Linked DNA regions of Homo sapiens: regions 1, 2 and 4 are each linked to region 3. Evidence: fine-mapped expression QTL. A gene starts in region 3. Each other region holds a variant in brackets. All regions are shown on one strand. Distances are from middle to middle. Region 1 overlaps SLC22A23 (solute carrier family 22 member 23). Region 2 overlaps SLC22A23 (solute carrier family 22 member 23). Region 3 holds the start of SLC22A23 (solute carrier family 22 member 23). Region 4 overlaps SLC22A23 (solute carrier family 22 member 23).

The links. PIP is the estimated chance that this variant, and not a neighbour inherited with it, causes the effect.
Region 1: its variant is the best candidate, but not a certain one, in a credible set for the expression of SLC22A23 in lung (TOPMed, PIP 0.54).
Region 2: its variant is the best candidate, but not a certain one, in a credible set for the expression of SLC22A23 in monocytes after LPS (Fairfax 2014, PIP 0.85).
Region 4: its variant is the best candidate, but not a certain one, in a credible set for the expression of SLC22A23 in blood mononuclear cells (TOPMed, PIP 0.66).

What each region holds. Positions count from the first base shown.
Region 1 is chr6:3,359,260-3,365,158 of GRCh38, reverse strand. All of the region lies in intron 3 of SLC22A23 (solute carrier family 22 member 23), which reads left to right. Among named protein-coding and RNA genes, the nearest start is that of SLC22A23, 95 kb to the left of the region's middle. RefSeq lists enhancers at 1-394, 395-895. The variant G/A (reference allele first, on the strand shown) is at 3,330.
Region 2 is chr6:3,339,954-3,344,816 of GRCh38, reverse strand. All of the region lies in intron 3 of SLC22A23 (solute carrier family 22 member 23), which reads left to right. Among named protein-coding and RNA genes, the nearest start is that of PSMG4, 83 kb to the right of the region's middle. RefSeq lists an enhancer at 2,906-3,629. The variant T/C (reference allele first, on the strand shown) is at 2,093.
Region 3 is chr6:3,454,396-3,460,294 of GRCh38, reverse strand. SLC22A23 (solute carrier family 22 member 23) reads left to right here and starts at 3,245. Exons shown (of 10, transcript NM_015482.2): 1 at 3,245-4,389. The coding sequence starts at 3,736. It overlaps LOC643327 (a long non-coding RNA gene), which reads right to left and starts at 4,592. Exons shown (of 2, transcript NR_147844.1): 1 at 4,044-4,592. RefSeq lists silencers at 2,968-3,187, 3,248-3,477.
Region 4 is chr6:3,346,534-3,352,432 of GRCh38, reverse strand. All of the region lies in intron 3 of SLC22A23 (solute carrier family 22 member 23), which reads left to right. Among named protein-coding and RNA genes, the nearest start is that of PSMG4, 91 kb to the right of the region's middle. RefSeq lists an enhancer at 410-3,270. The variant G/A (reference allele first, on the strand shown) is at 2,931.

The sequences.
Region 1 (5,899 bases), 95 kb after region 3:
TTAGTAGAGACGGGGTTTCACCATGTTGACCAGATTGATCTCCAACTCCTGACCTCAGGTAATCTGCCTGCCTTGGCCTCCCAAAGTGTTGGGATTACAGGCGTGAGCCACTGCGCCCAGCCATAGGGCAGTTTATTGGTTAATAAACTATACAGCAGACACCTGTGCCTCATTCCCTCGGCCCTTTAATGTCCCCTTGGCTCCCTGGGGCTCAGATCATTCCAGGGACCTCTGCACTTTTTTGCCGTCCCCCTACCCCCTCTCCACCACACCGCCAGAGTGAGCTTTCCAAACCCAAACCTATGCCTCACTCTTCAGCTTCATGTCCACTCAGCTGCTCTGACTGTCCCCAGGCCAGATTCCAAGTCTTAACCTGCACGTCCCGGATGGTGGACAACAGTAGCTCATCTCCTGCCACTCTCCATGCTGCGCTTCTCCTGTCAGGTGCCTCCTGCTCCTGTGTGGCTGCCTCAGCTGGGAGCGAACTGCTCCCTCCAGCTGTGCCCTGCACGCGTGAGACCTCTCGCTGACCCTGGAAACACAGCAATAGGATCACTTCCCAATGCCCTCCCTCACCTCTGTGTTGAATTTAGATGCCTCCTGTGTGACCTCATCACATGGTGTGAGCAGGGCATCTGGGCCAGGTGTGACCTCATCACATGGTGTGACCTCACTTTTTTTTAAAGAAGGGAATGAATTTTTTTTTAAGGAGGGAACAAATATAAAAAATCTTTGTCCTAGAGTCAGAAAACCAAGGTTCAGGTCCTACAGTTGAGACCTTCTTAGCTCTGTAACTTTGAGTAATTTACTGTAGAGAGCTGATGTTGGTTCCTTGAAGTGTAACATGGGAATTGTGCCTATTACATCTTACCTAGTTGCCGTGAAAATCGAATGCACTCACCTGCATGGAGAGGTTTTAGAAGCCATGAAACCCCGTACAAGTGTTTGGTGGCACCATAAGGACAGTTAGTGTTCATTTCCAAGCAATACAATATTGCATATTTGTGTGCAGATAATGAGCTTTCTATTACCTTTGACTCATCCCAAAGAGGTTCGTGAAAGTGCCCCAGGAGAGAGGGAAGGCAAAAGCTCTATTGGGTGAGATGCACAAATGTCAGACCATGCCAGAGCCTTCTGTTGTGTGGGCCCATGGGCCAGGTCAGATAAAGTCAGTACCGTTTGGGGCCCACCCAACTACACCCGAATGTCCTTCATGCCTTTGCCATGCCCAGAGGAAACTCATGCCTGTGAGGGTCAGCCAGTCCCTGGCTCTGCCCCATGTCCTGTCTCCTTTTGGAATGTAGAGCTAGTGCCCAAGAGAGGACCAGGATGGGGGCAGGGGCACTGGAGTAACCATGTAGTAGATGGCTGAGCAGAGGCCAAGGAGGCAGCTCCCACCACCACCCCAGAAAAATACCCCTTTTTCTCTCCAGAACGTGGCAGCGGTTGAAGCCAGGAAGGACCAGGCTGGAACGCTGTGCTTTTCCCTTTTTGGGGTGGCATTGTCCTCTGGAGAATTGCAAGCAGGCACCTTAGTGCTGAAGGTGCCACATCCTAGTTTGGGCGTGACTGCCAGGTGCCCACACTGGGCCCAGGGCCAGCCGCAGGCAGCAGCCTGTCACATCAAGGTGAGCAGCAGGCCATGGGCGGGGACAAAACCATGACTCATATTCCTGCTCATTCTTTTCCATCCCCTCCCCTTCTCCCTCACAGCCTCTCCTCAGCCTGTGTCCTGGGGTGTCACAGTCCCCCGAGGAGGAAGCCTGGGCCCTGTCTTAGGTCCTGTTCTGGCGGTGGCCTGGCCCCTGGGACAGAGCCCTACAGACAATTGCTGACCATTCAATCCTGCTGTGACACATGTGCTGTGCTGCCGGAGCTCACCCATTGCTGCTGCGCCTGGTGAGGATGGGCCAGCCAGGGCTGCAGGAAAAGAAAACTGACTTTGGTAGAGGGGAGACCCAACTGCTTTTGTATTTTGTGTTAATTTAAAATGGCAAAGATATAAGTCACAAAAAACATGCCCCTGCCTGAGTGTGCTATGCCTCATGTCCCAGCTGAGCGGAGAGCCCATTTCTGATGCTCATCAGAAGTTGCAGGCAGTGGGCTGCGGGATGTCCCACCGAGTGCTGAGCAGGTCAAGTGGGAATGCAGATCAAAACTCTCTTCCTTGGGCTCTGAGCAGTCCAGAGTTTAAAGGTTGTTAATTGGCCAAGCCTATTTAATATTTCATTCACGCGCACATGGAAACAAAGAGGTGGTCATGGCAAAAGCTGGCACAGGACATTCCCCTGTCCCACCACCCCATTCCCCTTGCCCTCAAAATCTTTATTCGATGGTCCTTAATGTCTGCATTTCATTCATGCTTCCTCTCCTGGGTCCTGGAGGTCTACCTGCTTCTGGGACCTGCAGCCTTTCTCCATGGAGAGAGCTGGGCTCTGGTTCTCCCATCCTCACTCTGTGTAGTGGAGAGACGGAGAGGCCAGATTTGTAGATGGCATCTTGGGGGTTCTGCCTGGCCCCAGAGTTCCATTCCTTTGTTACCTTGCTAAGGAGATGGGATGGGGGGCTTTGCTGTGCTCATTAATCTCAATCCCATGGAGCCCAGGGCCATGAAGAGATCTCAGAAAGGTCATGGCCTTTGCCTGGTTAACAACTGTTTGGTTCAGGAAACAGTATCCTTGGTGGGTGTTTCAATCCCTGATGAAAATGCATGCTAATTTTTATTTTTTATTTTTTATTTTATTTTTTTTTTTTGTGAGACGGAATCTCGCTCTGTCGCCCAGCCTGGAGTGCAGTGGTGTGATCTCGGCTCACTGCAACTTCTGCCTCCCGGATTCAAGCGATTCTCCAGCCTCAGCTCCCGAGTAGCTGGGACTACAGGCGCATGCTACCACGCCCAGCTAATTTTTTGTATTTTAGTAGAGACGGGGTTTCACCATGTTGCCCAGGCTGGTCTCGAACTCCTGAGCTCAGGCAATCCACCCACCTCGGCCTCTCAAAGTCCTAGGATTACAGGCGTGAGCCACCACACCTGGCCGCTAATTTTTTTAAAGTTTGCTTAAAAAAAAAATTTATTTTTCCCTAGAGGACCTCACAGAGCCTTTAATTTGCTGACAAGCACATGAATCTGAAGGGAAGGTGTATAGAATGATCTGATAGGTTTCCTCCATGTTTCTACAGTCCTTGTGTGCACTCTGGCATGACCATCAGCATGTGGCAGTGTGGTGTTGGATTTGGAGTATTTTCCATGCCTGATTGTAAATCCCTCGGGGTAGGGACCATGTCTTCATCTCCCTAGGTCGTAGCGTGAGAACCGGCACGTGTTTCCC[G/A]CTTGACAGGTGTCCCAGCCGTGGAGGCCTTTGCGATCTGTTGAGATGGCCTCATGTTTCTTCTTGCCCCCACAATGTGATTCAGCAAAAAGACAACTGGGTAACAGACGCATGGAGCAGTATTTCTTGGATCCCATGGGGCTTGCTGTGTTGAGACTGGGCTTTCGAGTCTGAATTCAACTGAGAGTGAGGTGTTGCTGATGCAGAGAGACTCATGGGCCCAGCCCCTTGTCCTCTGTAAAGCTGGGAACAGAAGCTAAGTCTGGAGAGTCGAACCCCAGAGTTTTAGAGATAGAACTGATAGGCAGGTCGCCGTTCTCCTGGGACCCCAGTCTTTGTGGCCTTTCCCAGCAGCTGAACTTTGGACCCCTCTCTCTGTGACATCCTGCTCCTAACCTGGCCACATGATGCTGCTTGAGAATCCAGCCACAGCCTGAGCCAGGACAGCTCTCAAGAGAGGAGGACAGGCTGTGGGATGAACGGTCATGGCCACAGATGGAAGGGACCCAATTCCTTAAAAAAAAAAAAAAAAAGAATGATGTAGGAGTCTTTAAGCTTCTCTAAAGGGCAGGGCTTGGGGGTCCCTGTGTCCCTCTTATTGAAGCACGTTTCCCTCTCTTTTTTTTCAGTAGAAAGACAGTTGAGGGGGTGTGTTCTGTGTGACACTGCTGCAGGCTCCTTTGGGGGAGAAACCCTGATCTAAGTCACAGCTGGTTGGGGTCTTAAGTCCTTAAGCAGTTTAACTTGGGGTCAGGCATAAAATGGGGGGGGTGGGTAGAAATAGAAAATATACAAACAACAGGAATATAAAATGTGGGACACCTTCTGTGGCCTGGACATCCCTGCTGCCTCGAGCTCCCCGCAGCTGCTGATGTTCGCTAGCGCCTCTCGTCACCCCAGTACCACGCTCTGACCTTCTGTTCCTGCTGCACCTGTTCCCCACCCCAGCATCTTTGCCCGAGGGAAGGCTTCGTCCAATCCCGTTCCCGCCCTGGATGACCACGCCAGCTGTGGGCCTGCCTGGCCGAACGCAGGTCTCCATCAGAGGGGCCCGTCTGCATGGGGGTGCCTGCACACCTGTCGTGTCGACATCACTGAGGACCCCTTGGGGGCTCAGGCCAGCTTGAGGGCCTCTTTGTCTCCTAAATAACTGGGACAGTATCTGGGGCTTAGATGAGCAGTCAGCATAGCAATAAGTGACCGGAAATACAGAGATGTGTGGACTAAGACTGTTGAGGTTGACTCGGATGTGTGCAAAGGCCCCAAAGTGACCTCCCTCCACGGTTGAGCCGTTGCCTGAAACCCGACTATGAGAATGCAGTTCTGTATTTTAAGGCAGATGAGACAAATGCCCCCAAGAATGGCAATGCAGTGAGCTCTGTGACTCACCTCACCTCCTGGTGATTGAGCCTTTCTGATCCTCCTGAGTTTAAGGATCCTTGGGTGGATGGGTGGGCGGGGCACAGCTGAGGTCAGAGCTCTCAAAGGCCAATACTACGGACTTGCCTTTTTTGTTGTTGTTTTATTTGGAGGGGGGTGTTTGTTTTATCATGGTAAAATAAACATAGCATAAAAATTACCATTTTAACTACTTTTAATTGTACCATTCAGTGGCATTAAGTAATTCACATTTTTACACAGCCATCACCACCCTTCATCTCTAGAGGTCTTTTCATCTTCCCAAACAAACTCTGTCCCCAATAAACACTCCCCATTCCCATCCCTTAGTCCCGAGCAGCCACCCTTCTACTTTCTGTTTCTATGAATTTGCCTACCTAAGAACCTATTTAAGTGGATCATGCAATATTTGTCCTTTTGTGACTGGCTTACTTCACTTAGCATAATGTCTTCAGGATTCCCTCAGAACAAGGACCTCTAAGGACAAAAATAAGTGAAAATAAGAAAAAAAGAAAAAATGCTTCCTTTATACTATAGCATATGTTGGATATGGCCTCCCTTTTTAAGGCTGAGTTATATTTCATCCTCTGGATGGATCACATTTTCTTATCCATTCATCTGTTGATGGACACCTGCGTTGCTCCCACCTTTTGGCTGTTGTGAATATGCTGCCGTGAACATAGGTGTGCAAATATCATTTCAGGTCCTTGCTTTCACTTTTGGGGGGTTATACCCAAAAGTGGCATTGCTGAGTCAGATGGTAATCCTCTGTTTAATTCTATGAAGAACAGGGATATTGTTTTCTCCAGTTGGCTGCACCGTTGTACATTCCCACCAGGAATGTACTGGTGCACCAGGGTTCCAGTTTCCCCACATTCTTGTCAGCACTTGTTATTTCCTGTTTGTTTGACAGCAGCTACCATCCTGATGGATGTGAAGGGCTACCACATTGTCGCTGTGATGTACATTTCCCCGATGACAGTGACGTTGAGCATCTTTCCATGTGCTTCTTGGCCATCTGTATGTCCTCTTCAGTTTTTGTTTTGTTTTAAACTTGCACTCAGATGGATAGTTATATGTGTGACCTAAGGAGAACCACTCAGTGATGAAGAATAAACGTGGCAACACCAGCTAGCATAGCTTAGCAGCATCTGTTATCTGCCTGAGGGCGG
Region 2 (4,863 bases), 110 kb after region 3:
CAGCAGGTGGATAGTTTGCAAGAAGCTTGCTTCTGAAATTATAAGGACCAAAATGTGATACTGAAGGAGTTCGTGATTGCCTAACGCTTACTTATTTCAATATGCTTAAAGTTTGGAATTGGTTCTTTCAAGACACGCTGTTCACTTCTACCTCCAGAAAAAGGATCTTTATACATCACTCTATGTGTACAAATTAGTTTCATTTTAACCTTCAATGAAATCCCAAACATTATAGAATGGCTTTTAGTTTCCCAGAAAATTTAGAACCCAGGCTGTTTGGCCCCAGAGCCCAGGTTCTTAACCACATGGTCGTGTCAGACACTACCGCTTGTGTCCTTTGAACTTTTCAATACAGCCCTTTAGACTCATCAAAGGGATCCAGTAGAGCTTCTGCTAGAAAAGGGGAAGGAAAGAGGGGAGGAGAATATGGCACATGTAGAGATTTGGCCAAGCTGTTTTGGGTATTCTCTATTATTTCTTATGCTTTTTCCATATATGTGAAATACTACTTTTTTAAAAAATTTGTTTGGTTTTCCCCTCCTTCTTACTTACATGTCATTGAGAATGCTAGGAAGGTGTTTTCATTTTGACATGTTAACATCAGATTCTAGATCAGTGCTGTCCAATAGAACACTTGAAGTGTGGCCAGTGCAACTGAAGAACTGAAGGTTTACTTGTACCTAATTTTAATTAATTTAAGTTTAAATAGCCATATGTGACCACTGTATTGGACAATGCAGTTCTGGAAGAAAAAGCCACAGAAACCAAGGCATTCCCCAGTGCTGTCAGAGACTGGACAGTAGATTCTAATTCGTGTACCATTCCCCTTAGCAAAAATCCTCTTAAAATATTTTCTAACTTAGGAATAAGCGAATCGAATCTAAAATTTACTTGAGAAAATATTCTCAATATTTATAGAATGTAAGTTCCTTCTTCTGCCATCCTGTGCCTTCTGTCTTCTTTCCCAAATGAAACATTTTTTCATTGCTTCTTGTGTGTATGTATTTAAGGGCTGCTCTCTGTTCGGCACCAATGTTTGACAGTGATTGGCTCTTCTCTTAAATACAGCCAGCTCCCCAAGGTCATCAGTCAACGTCATTATGTTCAGAAGCAGATAGATGGGCAATTCAAGAGCGACCTAGGGTCTTTCGACATTTGGCCGGCTGCTGAGTATTTAATTACGTCTCGACAAACATGGGAGAGAGCCCTCATTGATAAGCTTAGCTTGTTAAGAGCTGGTCTCATTAATGGTCATGGTGATAAATTGTGCTAGTCTTATTGAAAAAAAGATGTCTAAAACGAGGACATTATGTCTAAATGATGAGGATGTGTGTGTGTGTGTGCGTGTGTGTGTGTATTTGCAGGGGCTGGAGATGTTTCCTTCGTTCTTAAAGGATAAATCTGGTGTTTAAAATCCAAAGATCTGAATTCAAGTCCTAGATACTATAAACCATATGACCTAAGGCCTATTTGGTAACTAACCTCTTGGGGCCTCCCTGTTAAATGGGATTAGCACTTGTTTACGAGGCAAGAGTGTGGTTGGGAATAGATGTGGAAATGCAGTGTCTCTGTTTGCTGCTGAAGTGGTCCAGAATATGCCACTGGCCATAAGGACTGTTGTGAGCTGACAGCATTTGAGAACCAGCAGATGCAGGACGCAGCTTTGTCGGAACTCCCCCATCTACCTAGAAACAGAGCTTTCCCGAAGAATTCAACTGTCATAAATCCCCCTTTAAGGGAGATTTCTCCCAGCAGAGGTGAAGATGAGAAGTTGATGCAGGATGAGAAATTGCATAAACACACCTTACTAAAACAAACCTTCTCTTATATTATTTCCCCCGTGTATTTCTCTGTCATTTCCCACTATTTCTTGTCTCTTGAAATCCTAACCCCTTCCCTGCATTAGGATGGTATATAAAGCCCCAAATTCCAACCTCTTCTCTGAGCCATTTTTTGCACTCTCCTGCCGGTATACATATGTGATTAAACTTTGTCTTTCCTCTTGCCAGCCTGTCTTTTGTCAGTTTAATTCACAGGCCCCAAGCACTGACCCTAGGAGGGTGGAGGAAAAGGTTTTCATCCCCAGCACTAA[T/C]GTGAAGGTGTTATTTGTACGATGGCAGTTTCAGGCAGATGAGAAATCCCAGCAATTTTGCTGACATTTGACGGCAAAAGCTCCTCAAGGTTTGAATCTCCTGGACCCCCCATCTACTGGCTTCCTGGGCTCCATCTGGAAAGCATCTGTTTCTGGGAATCTGGGCTCAGGGCCCCGGGGGACTCTGATGCTGTGGGTCAAGGAGGCCCCACCTTTGAGAAGCACTGTTTTCAGGGACCTCTGCAGACTGGGAGAGAGAAAGAGGTGTGTGTGTTTCAAAGGAGGTGAGCCGTGAACCCTAGTGGCCTCACTTCCATAGTTTCTGGGGCTGTACTTCATTCTGAATTTCAAATTTTAGTATTCGGTTGCCTAAATGAAGTAAGGTATTCCTTTAAATTTTGTTTTATCTCAATTTGTTGGCCACCCAATGACTTTTTGAAAAAGAGTTATGTTAAGGAGACACATGGCCTTAAAACAGCAAACCACATTGGGCTGGATTTCAAATTGAGGCTTCCATCTTGAAACAAAACGGTAACTGAGAATAAGTTTTCATTTTCACGCAGACACACCTAAAATTTAAACCCATAGTATGTACCTAGAGGAACAAAATGCTAGTTTAGGAGCTGCTGAACCTAAACTAGCAGCTTTCATTAAGAAGAAATCTTAATTAAAGCTTCATTAATCTTTCATTAAGAAGAAAGATTTTCTTCTTAATGCTACTGAACAGATGTCTTCCTCTATCCATGAATCGAAATATAGATAATCACTTGGGCCCTAGGATTTGTTTAGGAAATGAAAGAAGTACAAGAAGACTTAAGTTGTATGATTTTTTTTAAAATCCATTAACTTTTCTTTTAAAGGATTTACAGGTGTGGAAAGGATGGCCCCAGTCTGAAATTTTATTCCCAGCTTGTGTTCAGTTTCCTGCGCTCCCCCGCCCCCACCCCCCTCGCTTGACAGGGAAGCTTCGGTCACAACAGATGACCAATGAATTGTGCGTGTGGTTTCTTCTCTTTTGCTTCTTTTCTTTTCTGCCAACTCTGTCAAAGGCAGCCCAGCGTGAATCAGAAGTGCTGGCTGAACACTTACCCCAGAAGTCTGAGATGGTTTGGTAATCACAGCATTTACATTTGAATGTCATCTAACACCAGAGCAGTGATTAACCAGTGACTACAGAGTCACATCCTAAGTAGAGTAATACTGTGATTTTTTTCTGGGTTTTCATGTTCTGGACCCAAGGAGTTGGAAGAAGAGAGAGAGAGAGAACAAAACCCATCCACCTCAGAGTTTTCTAGTGAGGTCTGACATCTGCCATTCTAAAAAGTTTCAGGTGTGTCCTCTAAACCTCACCTTGAAACAGCCTCTTGCACTGTATAAAAGTTAGGCTTTTGGAACAAAATCTTTTGAAACAACTACAACAAAAAGTATGCTTCAATGGCATAACTTTTTTTTAGCATTTCAATCCTTCATATTTAACATTTTTCCTCTCAGCTTGATCGGAGGGAGGGCTTTCTGAGAAACCCTCTTTCCAATGAATCTCAAAACAGCTTCTGAGGTCATCTGTGACTCGGGCCAGCCTCTCAGCAACCTCTGTGTGAGGATTGTTTCTCTATATTAAATGCTGTATGTTCCGAATGTGTGTCCTTCAGAGCCAGGAGCTCACAGGAGCCATGTGACCCCTGACTTCACAGCAGGCCACCTTCAACCCTGTGAAGGGAGGGGAAGGTGCCATAGCAGGCATTGGTGATGGGAATGCCAAAGGTTATGTGTAACATGAGAGACCGGCCCCTCCTCATTCAACCTGATCCTGAAAGAAGGAGCATAAGCTTGAAGACATGAGTCCTTTAAATATCATTCCTGTAAACTCATATTGCCCTGGTTTCTGTTTTCCCAAATGGTAAATGTATCCTTTCCAGACAGATCCCATCAAAACCCACAAGTACCTAAGGACAGTCTCTCGGTTCTCATGTCTCTAGCACGTCATGCGGCTGCCCTTTTCCCAGTAGCCCCATCTGTTTTCCATAAGGGCCGCACTCTGTCACTTTATAAATTTGCTACGGCAATTGTCTCCTGCTTTTTCACATGGGACCTTGAAAATCGTTTTTGGCCTTTACACAAAGGATCGGTTACAAAGCTCCTCATACTGTGGTTAGAAATCGAGTCACTTTCCAAGTTGCCGTTCTTATGCAAGATGTTCCCAACTTTTGCAAGAATTATCAACTTTTACAAAAGTTCATTTATCTCATGGTTACCTGGAACTAAAGGGGCAATTTGTCATAGACTCTGCTGCGGTTACGTATGGGTCCCCAGGCCAGCCCACAGGGCTGTTTAAATGTGTCCCTGAATTATTATACTAACGTGCTGTTTGAAGGCCCTAGAGAGAATGTGACCGGCGGGCGTTTTACCTTATATCATCACTTTCTTTGACTCTGACAAACATTTCTTCCAGATAGTACCTCTTGCCATTCATAAGAGAGTCATAAGCATGTTAAGCCTCTTGCTCAATGTCATTCGTATAGCTGGTACTTGGAAAATGGAAATGCCAACCAATTTCAAAGCCCCTGCCCTTACCATTCCCTTCTCCAGGCCATCCCTCCTGGATAATACCGCTTTTGTGGGAGCGCTCTCTGGGCTAGGAAGCACCTCCCCTGTGGGGAGAGGAGAGGAGGGAAGCTGTATTCTCATGGACACATTTTTAATTTCATATGTTTACATAAGGAGGCTCAGATGTTCCTCAGCCATTATTGTTACAGGAAAGGGGCCCTGATCCA
Region 3 (5,899 bases):
AGAAAGCACGGTCCTGCAAACATGGGGCATCAAAAGGACAATGGCTTCTGCTATGATGTTCAGAGAAGCCCAAAACACATTTTTTTCTAAGTATTCAATCTCCCAATTTTGAAATGTTAGCAATTATTTTCCTGAAAACATTGCCTATGGTCTGTGAGCTGCATTTGGCCTATAAGCCACCATCTGCAAGCCAATACTGCCCAAGAGAAGATAATATTGGGAGCTAATCCAGTAACCACAATGCCTTACAACAAGACATATAATTGTCAAATTCATTTCAAGTCTCATGTTGGCTGATCTGAGCACCATCTTTGAGAGATGAACAAACACAAAAAGGTTGCTTGATGATTTAAGAAACAAAGTAAACAGTTTGATGATTTGAATAGACAGTATCATCAAGTGATTAATAACTTGATACACTCATTTATTTGACAAAGATGTATTGAGTGCCTTGCATGTACCAGGCACTGTTTTAACCACCAAGCATACAGCTGAGCACAAGGCACCTATCCCCGAAGGTGCTTACATTCTAGAGGCAGAACGTAAATCTAACTAAGCAAACAAGAAAAATAGCAGCTGATGATAATGCTCATTCAGAAAATTAAAAACAGTAATTTTTTAACAGGTGTCTGGCTTTCCTATCCTGGTCCATGGATCTCAAACCTCACCCACTGAGGCTGTCAGAGTGTCAAATTCTTCCTCTTTACTCCTTTTGCTCACGTTATGAGATCACTTGTGGTATGTTTTAATAAATTGAAGGCCACTTTATTTTAAAGTAGTTACACTTTAATCTTCTTGACTAGATTTGGTGGAAATATCAATCCAGGAGGAATTTAGGGAAACCTCTAATCTAATCAACAGCTTAATTACAATGCCTGGGTCAGTGCTGCAGCTAGTTAATTTCAAACATTTTATGTTGCCTCCTTTTAGCTTCAGTTTTAGAGGATACCATTTTCCAGTGTGTCCCTAAATTCTAAGAATGTACCATTTGAGGATTTTTACCACCTTTTGCGAACAAAGACTAATAACATCTTCACAATGAAACTCTTTTCCTAGGGCCAGGGCTTCTCCCACGTAAAAATGCACATTAACAAACATCTTTGTAAACTCTTCCCTATAGTTGCCCCTGTATGATGAAATGGAGAAATCCGGTAATGTCCAGTCAGAAAATCTGGGTTCAAAACCAGATATTTGGCTCAGCTGGGGACCAACTCTTTGATCTGGTAGTCAGTCACCTGATCCTTGCTGTTTCTCTTTGAAAGCCCACTTCTTGGGGCGCTGAATGTGAGGACTGAGTGAGAGTGTGAATTTGAAAGCCAACTCTGAAACGCTGGCTATGATAGTTATTCTGATTGGAAGGGCCATTAAGGTCAATGGCAATGCTCCTTTTGTGATCAGTTACAAGAAAACAAATGGGTCCTTGTGACTGTGGGGGAAGGGAGGCAGAGCCAGACACAAAGTGGACCTCTTCTGGAAAATCAGCCACTGAAAGGAAAATAAATAAAATCCGTAAAGTTATATTTCAATTCAAAAAGAAATGTGGATTGTATGTAATGGCAAGAGGAGCACTGGTAATAATACATGTCTAACATTCATTGCGCACTTACTCTGTTCCAGGCATGGAGGTCAGAACTTTGCATGTATTAGCTCTTCAAATGAGGGGAGGAGAGGGAAGGAAAAGAAAAGTTAAGCTAATAAATAATGTGAAGTTGAAAAATTACCACGTACACAACGTGCACTATCGTGTCCCCCCCCGCCCCAAGCCCCCAGCTCTTTATATATGTGGTTTCCAGACCCATTTCTCAGCGGTCTGGTGTCTTTTGCAGCCCTTAGGGCCCCTTCCGCCCATTGTTATCTAATCACCCCTTCTCGGCCACGCAGGAAGGTCCACAACCTCCCCTGTCCCCCAAGACCCGCCCCCCGGCAGCCTTCAGAAATAGTTCTCTGGTACGTATGTGCCAGCATTTTATGCAGTAAACACATGTTGCCCTTAACACTGAACTGCAGGTTAAAAATGTATTCCACTAAATTGTGCAGCGGTTAGCTGAGCAAATAATGAAAATGCAAAAGAATACATTCAGTATATGGAGCTTAGAATATATCCTTTTGGAAAGCTAAACATTTTTTTTTTTTTTGCCCCAAATAAGACTAGAAATGGATTGCTCCATTTAAGACTTCCATTAATAAACTTCTCAGAATATGAAATGCCTCCAAAATGTGGGGACGCTGGGTTGAAAGGTGCCGGATAATTCTCTTTGGTGCGTGCGCTGGGTGCAGGAGGAAATATGCTAATGTAGCCGTTTGCCGCAGGGCTGGTGTTATTTATACAGCGCTGGCTGGGCAAGGTTGGCGCTGGAGCAGGAGAGGAGGGAGAGGTTTGTCTTCTTGTGTGAGAGTATAGATGTGTGCGCCTGTGCACACGGCGTTCCAAACGTGAATACAAGATCTTAGGGAGGGGGTGGGGAATGCCATCACGTTTATACTGTGTGTATTATAACTTGTGTTGGAGATATATCCCAGCATCGTGCTTACATCGCATGCACTTAGGAGTGGGGGAAGAAATGGCGATTTGGGAGTGGGTGCGGCGGGTCGCAGGTGGCCAGACACTGCGGGGGACTGGCGACCTGAAATTGGCAAAGGCGCCTCCTTGACCCTGCTCCACGGACACAAAAATCAACCTTATTCGCTCCTGGAAAAAGCGCAGAGGGTTGTTCCCGAAGGCTGAAGACCCTCGGGCTTGGGACTGGGAGCGGGGCGCGGGCAGCGGGACCGCCGGGCACCTCTGAAGAGACAGAGGTCACGGAGACCTGGCGCGCGCGGAGTGGGTGGGGGGCCCGCGCGGCTGCGGGAGCCCAGCCTCAGAGAAGACCCGGCCCACACGTTCTCAGCGCACGCCGACTTTGCCGGGACCCGTCGCCGGCCGGCGACCCCTGCTACGCGCGTCTCCTCCTCCCCCGCCCCGCCCGGCGCGAAACGGGCAACGGGCAGGGGATCCTCCAGCCAGGCGGGCCCGGGGTGTCCCGTTTCCCCCGCCCCCCTCCCGTGGATCCCGGGCGGCGGCGGCCGCGCGTCCGGGCTGGAGGGGGCGCTCGCGAGCAGGAGCCGAGCGCAGCAGGTGCCGCGGTTACCTCCACCTCGGCGGGGGGAGAGGGGGCGGGCCGGGGGGCAGGGAGGAGGGGGAGGAGGAGGAGGAGGAGGAGGAGTGGGGCCGGCTCCAGGAGCTGGAGAGCGCGGCCGGCTCGGCAGGCTGGGTCCAGAGCTCGCGGCTTCCGGGAGGCGCCCGAAGTCGGAGAAATACAGCGCGGCCACCCCGGGAGCAGCAGCCTTTGCCCGCACCGCCGCCCGCAGGGCCCTGAACCGCCGGCAAGGGCGCGGGCCGGGCGCGGCGCCGGCTCCTCCTCCTGCCGCGTCCGGCGCGGAGCAGCGGAGAGCGGCGGGCTCGGCAGCCGGCGCCCGGGCCGCGGAACTGATGAGCCGCGGCGGCTGAGGGCCCGGCCGGCCTCTGCCCGCCTCTGCCCGGCGCCCGAGCGGGGCCGCAGCGCCCGGGGCGCGGGGTCCGGCGGGTGACATGGGGGCGGCCTGACGCACCCGGAGCCGCCGAGCGCTCTCTCTCGAGCCGCGGGCCCTCCTCGGCGGCAGCGGCTGCAGGCGCCTGGCCCGGCGCGCTGTGCCCGGGGCGCCCGCGGAGCCTCCGCCGCGCTCTATGCGCCTCTGCGGGAGCCGCGGGCCCGGGCCATGGCCATAGACCGGCGGCGCGAGGCGGCGGGCGGCGGGCCTGGGCGGCAGCCGGCCCCGGCCGAGGAGAACGGCTCCCTGCCGCCCGGGGACGCGGCGGCCTCGGCGCCCCTCGGGGGACGCGCGGGCCCCGGCGGCGGCGCGGAGATCCAGCCGCTGCCCCCACTGCATCCTGGAGGCGGCCCGCACCCGAGCTGCTGCTCCGCGGCTGCGGCCCCGAGCCTCTTGTTGCTGGACTATGACGGGTCGGTGCTGCCCTTCCTCGGGGGCCTGGGCGGGGGCTATCAGAAGACCCTCGTGCTGCTCACCTGGATCCCGGCGCTGTTCATCGGCTTCAGCCAGTTCTCGGACTCGTTCCTCCTGGACCAGCCCAACTTCTGGTGCCGCGGGGCCGGCAAAGGCACCGAGCTGGCAGGGGTCACCACCACAGGCCGGGGCGGGGACATGGGCAACTGGACCAGCCTCCCCACCACCCCCTTCGCCACTGCCCCCTGGGAGGCTGCGGGCAACCGGAGCAACAGCAGCGGCGCGGACGGAGGCGACACACCACCCCTGCCATCCCCTCCGGACAAGGGGGACAACGCCTCCAACTGTGACTGCCGCGCATGGGACTACGGCATCCGCGCCGGCCTCGTCCAGAACGTGGTCAGCAAGGTAAGGGCCGCAGCCGCCCAGTCCCTCCAACCCTCTCCCTGCAGACCGAGGTCCAAGCCCGAGCCAGCGGGAGAACCGAAGTCCCCAAAGTGGTGGTGCTAGAGTGTGTGTAGGGCATTCCGCATTGGCTTAATCTCCTTCCGTCCCCCAAACCACATGCCTTTACTTGGGTGTAAAGGGAGCACCATAGCCTTTACTAGTTTGCACCCAAACTCCTGTCCCAGTACGCGGATGGAAAGCGCGCCCTTCCCCCACCCTCGGGGCGAGGCAGCTGACCTGTCACCAGCCCCCTCTGGAGGAGTCGGACTGGCGTCGTTCAAGGTCTGCTGGGGGAGTCGGGACCACAGCCCTGTTCTGCCCGGCTAGTTGTCCCTGGGTCTCCCACAAAGCAATAGTCTTCCATCTCGCACTTGATTTTGACACAGGTAAAGCCTACTAAAGAACTGGAGAGCCAGAGAAGCAAAGACTCCTGCAAATCCCCAACCCGCAGCCGATGCTTAGTCCTCCCCAAAGATATCTGACTTTAGGCTTTGCTACCCCAGTGTCTCCTCCCATGTTTTCTCAGCACTTCAGTAAACATCACTACAGTATAGGAAGGACGCGGAGAATATGTCATTTGGGTGTTCCCCGGCCGTCACCGCTCTTACACAGCAGCTGCTTTGGGCTGAGGCACTGAGAACGGGGGTGTGCTTTAGCTGAAACATGCACCTTGTCCTCTGAGTCCTGTAGCTAAAGCTCCCTTGCAGAGGTATTGCGTGGTGTGAAATGTAGCAGAAGGGAGTTGTGAGACAAGTGTGAAGGCCTAAACACAGAGTGGGCAATGGTGGACACTCAATGCCCCTAGACAGCTGTAATTTTATTCTTAACATATAAGAGATATCAAGACATTTGTAGTTTTGCTCCTTGTGTCTAAACTAATTAATTCACATTTTAAAGTAAATACAGACTCTCCTCCACCCCACCCGCTACCCATTCTGGGCTGTTCTGGCAGAGTTTTAAATGCTTTGTCGAAATGTATGAAATTGGACAGTTTTAAATAGTCAATGTGCATGTAACCTCCTCCCCCCGTGTGCATTGGTTAACAGTTGTAGCTCATGGATGTGTAAGATAAACTCTTACATCATCATAATCATTGTTTTAATCTTGTACCAACCTGGCCAGAAATGCTCTGTCCTGTGGGAACTGTCTGACTGAGCTGCCCCTGCTGCCCTGCAAGGTAATGGGGAAGGTCCTTCTAGCTGGGTTCACCTTGATCCCACCCACCTCCTACCCCCTGCTTTCTAAAGGTGTTTCTGTGACTGTTTTCCCTTCACGGAGGGCAATATTTCTTTGTTGGTTTAGCAGCAAAGAAAAATTAAGAACAATGACTATTTAAATCACTGTGTATGTCTGACAGACTGAGGATTTGGCAACATTGTTAAGTATTTCAAGTGTCTTTCTAGAGCAGAGGGAGAATAATGGATCAAAGTGAGTATGTGTGAAGAGCGCTGTGTCCTGGGGTCAAAGTAGA
Region 4 (5,899 bases), 110 kb after region 3:
CTGTGCATGCATGCCGGTGAGCTTCTGTGGCTGTGTCTGTGTGTGAGTGTGTCTGTGCATGTCTGTATGTGCTTGTGTTTGTGGCTGTGTGTGTGTGTGTCTGTGCATGTCTGTGTGTGCATGCTTGTAAGTGTCTATGGCTGTGTGTGTGTGTGTGTGTGCATGTCTGTGTGTGTATGTTTGTGAGTGTCTGTGTGTCTGTACATGTCCGTGTACGTGGTTTTCACTGTCAGAGCAGCAGGACAAGAGGCACTCTCACATCTCCTTCCACAACCTGCCCTGTTCCTCCCTTCCTTATCTGTGGTCCTGGTGGGCCTGGTTTTGCCATGGCCTCTGCCACCTCTCAGCACTCCAGCAGCCCTGCCTGGGGAGGGGAGGCCATGGAGTGCTTTCGCCTTGACGCCCATTTCAGAAACGGAGCAGCCTTACCAGTCGGGTGGTGGACAGTCATCCACCCAGAGCATCCCTCCCTGCTCTCCTGTTTGGTGTGGCCTAGATGGGAACTCCATCTGCCTCGAGGTGGTCCCCATGACTGCAGCAGCTCAGGCCTTGGCCCTGCTGCCCATCCTCCTGCTCACCTGGGGGTCATGTACATTTGATGAGAATGCATTAGAAACCTGGGTTTCCTGGCTCAGTCCTGAATGAAGTAGCAAGTCTCCTCGGGGACAGTTTTGATACCAAATAGCAGAAATATGGCTCCATAGGGCCCACCCTGTGGTACAGTGTGGCTGGGGGAGGAGATGGGTTACAGAATCTTTGAAGTGGCCAGTGACGTGTTCTTAGGCGAAAGCCAGGAAAGGTCGAGGGGAGAGAGGTTTCCAGAGCAGTGGGAGGGGTGGGCGGGAAGCCACAGAGAGGGCTGTTGACTGAGCCTGGATGACTGCTCATTAGTCCTGACCGTCCAGTACTTGTGGGCTGAACGTTCCCCGCTGCCTGGCACGCTCAGGGCAACCCCCAGGATTTGTGTTCATTGCCCAGCTCAGCCACCCCCACCCCATAAAATCTCAAGACTTGTCTTTCTGCCAGCACTAGCTGATAACATCAGATTATTTTTCCCCAACCCTTTTCCTTCGCCCCTTCGTTTTCCACCCTAAGAGGCTAAATTGCCTGGCATTTTCCACCGCACTCCGATTACACTGGACAAAGGGCCATCCGGCTAGAATGCTAATAGGGAGATTTTTTTTCCATCCTGCCTGAGCCTCACAAAAGCTGGGGGCTTTAACTGCGAGGGCCTCTCTAGCTCTCACTTTCTTTCCTGTAATTCTATACAAACGGCATTAGCCTTTTATGAGGTCTTTGTTTGTGGCCATTCTGAGGGTACTTTTCATCTCACATGGGTTTCTTGAATTTTAAGTGGAATTTGTTCAAATCGGCCTGGCCTTGCTTCTCCTGGAGGAAATGCAGGCTCACCATTATAAGTTAGTAAATTCAAAAGGGATTTTTTTTTTTAAGAAAAAAATCTTTCTCTTTCACCACAAATTAAATGCGTCAATAAGAGAAGATGATTAAAAATTCAAGTGCCCTTTGAAGATACAAGATGATTGACCTCAGAATGGGAGTGAGAAGGGCAGTGAGACCAGCTCCCCATTACCACCAAGAAATTCCATTTGTTTTCTCTCTCTGATGTGAAAATAACTCCGTCTCCCTTGAGGAATCTGCTCTCATAATAAAAATCACCATTTGCATTTTTTAAGTAATAATGCTGATTTTTCTGTTAGAAACTGAAGGATAACTAAAACATGCTGGCTCTGACAACCAGTTTGACGAATGGATCAGTTAATCCAGCCTGCAGCTGTCAAAGCTTCAGAGCAGGCATGGGCCAAGTTTTCTGCAAAGGGCCAGAACATGAATATTCTGGGCTGTGCAGGCCATACGGTCTCTGCCCCACCTACTACTCCCTGCTACTGCAACAGCAGCCATGGACAATCTGGAGGTGAATGAGTGTGACCGCATTCCACAAAAGCCGCATTTGTCGACACTAAAATTTCAATTTCACATAAACTTCACACAAGAGATATTATTCATCTTTTGGTTGTCTTGAACCATTTAAAAATGTCCATTCTTAGGGACGAGCTGAATAAAATCAGGCAGTGCATTGTACAAAAACAGCAGCCTTCAGCAGGATTTGGCCCGAGGGTCATAGTTTTCCAACCCTACTTTAGAGCAGCTTTTAAAACTGTAGTTTATGACACATTAGGGCTTGGGTTAAGGGTTATAGAATCCATCGGGTGGGTCCTGCCCAGCATTTTTAAAGAAAAAAATAGAATTAAGTGCATCACACACAATAAGGGTTAAGTATCGTTTCATGAAAATTTGGGGTGTGTGTGTGCATGCATGCTGAGTCACTATGCTGTGCAGTACTGGGAAATAATTTTCTATCAACCATGGTCCTACTCATCCACCAGACTTTTATGTGCTTCAAAGGACACAAAGACCAAGAACCAAGGGACTGTGAATGTACTTAGCCCCCAAGAGGGGATGAAGGCGACCGTGATCATCTGCCTTCGTGTATCACAGGAATCAAGAGCCCTGGAAGAGGTGCTCTGTCCCAGGTCTGTGATCAGAGAGCGATGGGAGCAATAAGCCACCACCTTATCTTTCCTGAAGATATCAGGTTGCTTGAGGCACTGCCCACTTCATATGAATTTCCTGCTTTCATGTTAGGCTTATTTCTGAGTAGTTCAAATAATTCATCTTCTCCACTCTGCTCTTCCACCTCCTGAGATTCAGTGATATTTAAAGCACTTGGGTGGTTGAGTATTCAATATTCTTCACCAAACAGAAATACAATAGTGTGTGGGAAGAAGGGCCATGCATTTTAATCTGATGAAAACAGCTCATGCCAGCTGTGACGGTTAGCCTAACTGCAAACTAGGCTGTGAGGAGGTGGAGGAGGAAGGAAGGTATATTTTGGTACTATAATAATTCAG[G/A]GCCTGCAGGGGATGCCCTATGGTTGAACCACATTCTAGAGAGGGTTCCAGAAACTCCAGGGGCCACAGGGCTTGCCTCGGGGTTGGCATTGGGATTTGGTGGTAGGAGTCAATTTGGCCGAAGAGTCCTCGGGTAGGTGGGATAGGGAGAGAGAGGCTGCCTCTTAGGTCCCCAGGAAGTGGGGAGGAAGAAAGACAGGTAGGAGACAGAAAGGTGTTTGGGGCTCTGACTGCCCAGTCCGAAGCCCCAGCTCAGTGCTGAGCTGCTTGGTGGCTAGGGCAGGCTTCCTCGAGGGTTCTGCAGGCTTTGGCAGGGAGGAACGAAGAGCAGGGAGAAGTGCCCCGCGGCCAGTTGGCCCCAGTGGGAAGCACCCCATCACCCAGCTGTTTGCAGAAAAGGCAGCTGTCCTTGAGGGCAGAAGCAGAGGAGCATCCCCCTTCCTTGTCATCCTGCTCAGGGGAGGCTTTGTGGCTTTCTGGTTTACCCAGAGGGAGACACTGTTTACTCTTCTGAAGGGGTTATGAAAGATGACTATTTCCAGAGTGGTGATGAACGCTGGAGAGACAGTTGGAAGGGAAGACAGTACCAGTTGACTCTCCTCTGAGGCAAAGCCTCTAAATTCCTAAGCCCTCCCTGCCCTGGCTCTGGGTCATGGGGACCCGGTCCGTTGGCTGGGAAGGGTTTGTCTCCTTGTGACCCAGGATGCTTGCTGTAAGATTTGGTGACTTTCTGCAGCTGGAAGGTTTGAAGCTCTGTTTTCCTTGGACAGTTTGCTAGTTGGATCTTGGGTTGAATGAGCAGCCGCTAGGGGTGAAGTATCTGGCCTCAGGTGTTGGGTGGGTCAGGTCCTAGGAGTTGGGAAGGGCACCACACCCAGCTCCGTGCCGGGAATGTGGTGGATGCTCGTGTGATTGCCAGGCTAGTAAGTGCCGAATGGTGGGCTGCATTTTTCCATCAACAGGGCCGGATTCTATAGTGTGCACTCACTTAGGTGCAGATGGGACTCAGTAAGAAGACAGTGGCCTTGCTAAATAAAGAAACTGAGAGCAAGATAAACACAATGCAGACTGCTATTGTCACTCTGAGCAGATGGCCACAAGTCACCCAAAGCTCAGGTAAGAAGAGAAAACAGAAGCTTGTAGAAAAATACAGCTCCTGCTCCAGGAAAGATGGCGCCTAGGCTTTGGTTCAGAGGCCAGACCCCTCCGTTGTAGTAGCTGTTCCAGGCCATGGTCAGAAACCAATTCCCTTCCTCACTTCCCCACATCCCCACATCCTTCCGTCCCCAAGCATGGAATCGTGGAACGTGCAGGCACCAAGGATTAGAGGGTTGGGACTGAAGAAAACAAAAAGAATGTCTCTTTCCTCCTGGAGCCTTCCAGAGCAGGAGACACACAGCATGCAGGTAACTAGATAAGTGTGTCCCCCACAGCTGGGACAGGTGCCATGAAGGAGAAGCCTGCAGTGAGATAAGAGAGCCAGTGAGGCCTGAGTTAGATGAAGGAGTGGAGAGCAAAAGCCTCCATGATGACACATCACCACGCAGAGACAGGAGGGCGTCCAGGCTGGGGCAACAGCCGCACACCTCCCGATGCTGGGCAGAGCTTCATCTTTAGCAGTAGAAGGAAGGGCTCTTGGCCACAGCCTGAGGGCAGGGCAGACTGTGTAGGACCTCCTATGCCAAGCCAAAGACTCAGGAATCTTGTGCATAAAGTGAGTCTCCAGTGGAGATTAGAGGAATAATGAGAAAATATCAGACTTTTAAAAAATTCAATATGAAGTCATAAAAAAATCAGATTTTTATGCTAAAAAGTATAGATCAGAAAATGTAAAGTAGGAGGAGAAAGAGAAGACCATTGAGAAGAACCAGGAGGTAGCCAACACGAGCGATGAATGAGAGAGGGAGGCTGGGAGAGAAGCAGCTTAGGAGACCCAAGAGATCAAGCAGATACCTGAGGCATTTGGCAGTTCATTGCATGGCTGGGCCCTGCCTCCTGTTACCCAGGGGAAGGAATGACTAAGTGCTCCTGGTGTAGTTAAATTCTCCTGTGCAGTTCAGCTCTCAGAGGTCAGCCGTGATGATGCTCCAATGTTGGGGGTTGGTTGCTCAGGTCAGCCGCCAACACTCACCAGAGTCTTCTCTGTGTCAGCTCTTCACCATCCTGAGGGGTGCGAGGAAGTGTGAGAGAAGGACATGGCCCACAAGAACGCTAGGGTCCAGTTGGGGGGACAGATGCATGTGCGTGTAAGACAACGCAACCGTACAAAATAGGAAGCTGCTGAATGTCCCGCAGTGATGCGAGGGGTTAAGTCCATGAGTGGCGTGGCTGCACGGTCAAACTTCGGGCACTCACAGGACATCACAGCGTGGGGGTAGTTAATGACTTGGGGAAATGTGTGCAACATAATGTAAAATAACAAAAGCAAACTGATAACCATTTAAAAAAAAACGTTGTGAAAGATTGGGAGGAAATATACTAAAATATGAACACTGGGTGTTTGGGTTATTGGTGATTCCCTTAATACATATGTCTGTATTTTCAGGGAATTCCCATAGTATCTTTGTTTAATGTGAAAAGTTAAAATGTATGTATGTTGTCCTTTAGATGCTACTAGGGGGTATATGCTCTGTGTTATATGTGTGCCCTGACCCAAGACAGCTTTGCCAGGTCCTAGGTTAGAATTCATCCTGGGTGTCAGCAAGGGCAGACTATTTCTAGTAGGACTGAGCTGAGCAAAGGCATGACAGGGAACCAAGTGGAAGGTGGGTCTGAGGGATGGCCAGGGAATGGGCACAGCTCCCATGGACTCCCAAGAGGCTGTGGGATGGTGCAGCTGGGAGTAGCTGGAGGTGTTTCATGCCTGCCCAGGATCTGGATGTGATGACACAGGAATGCAATGCCAACACAAGGGTTTAAAGAGCCACTTGCCTGCTTGGGAATGCCCTTGTAAGCTGTGTGGCAGCAGA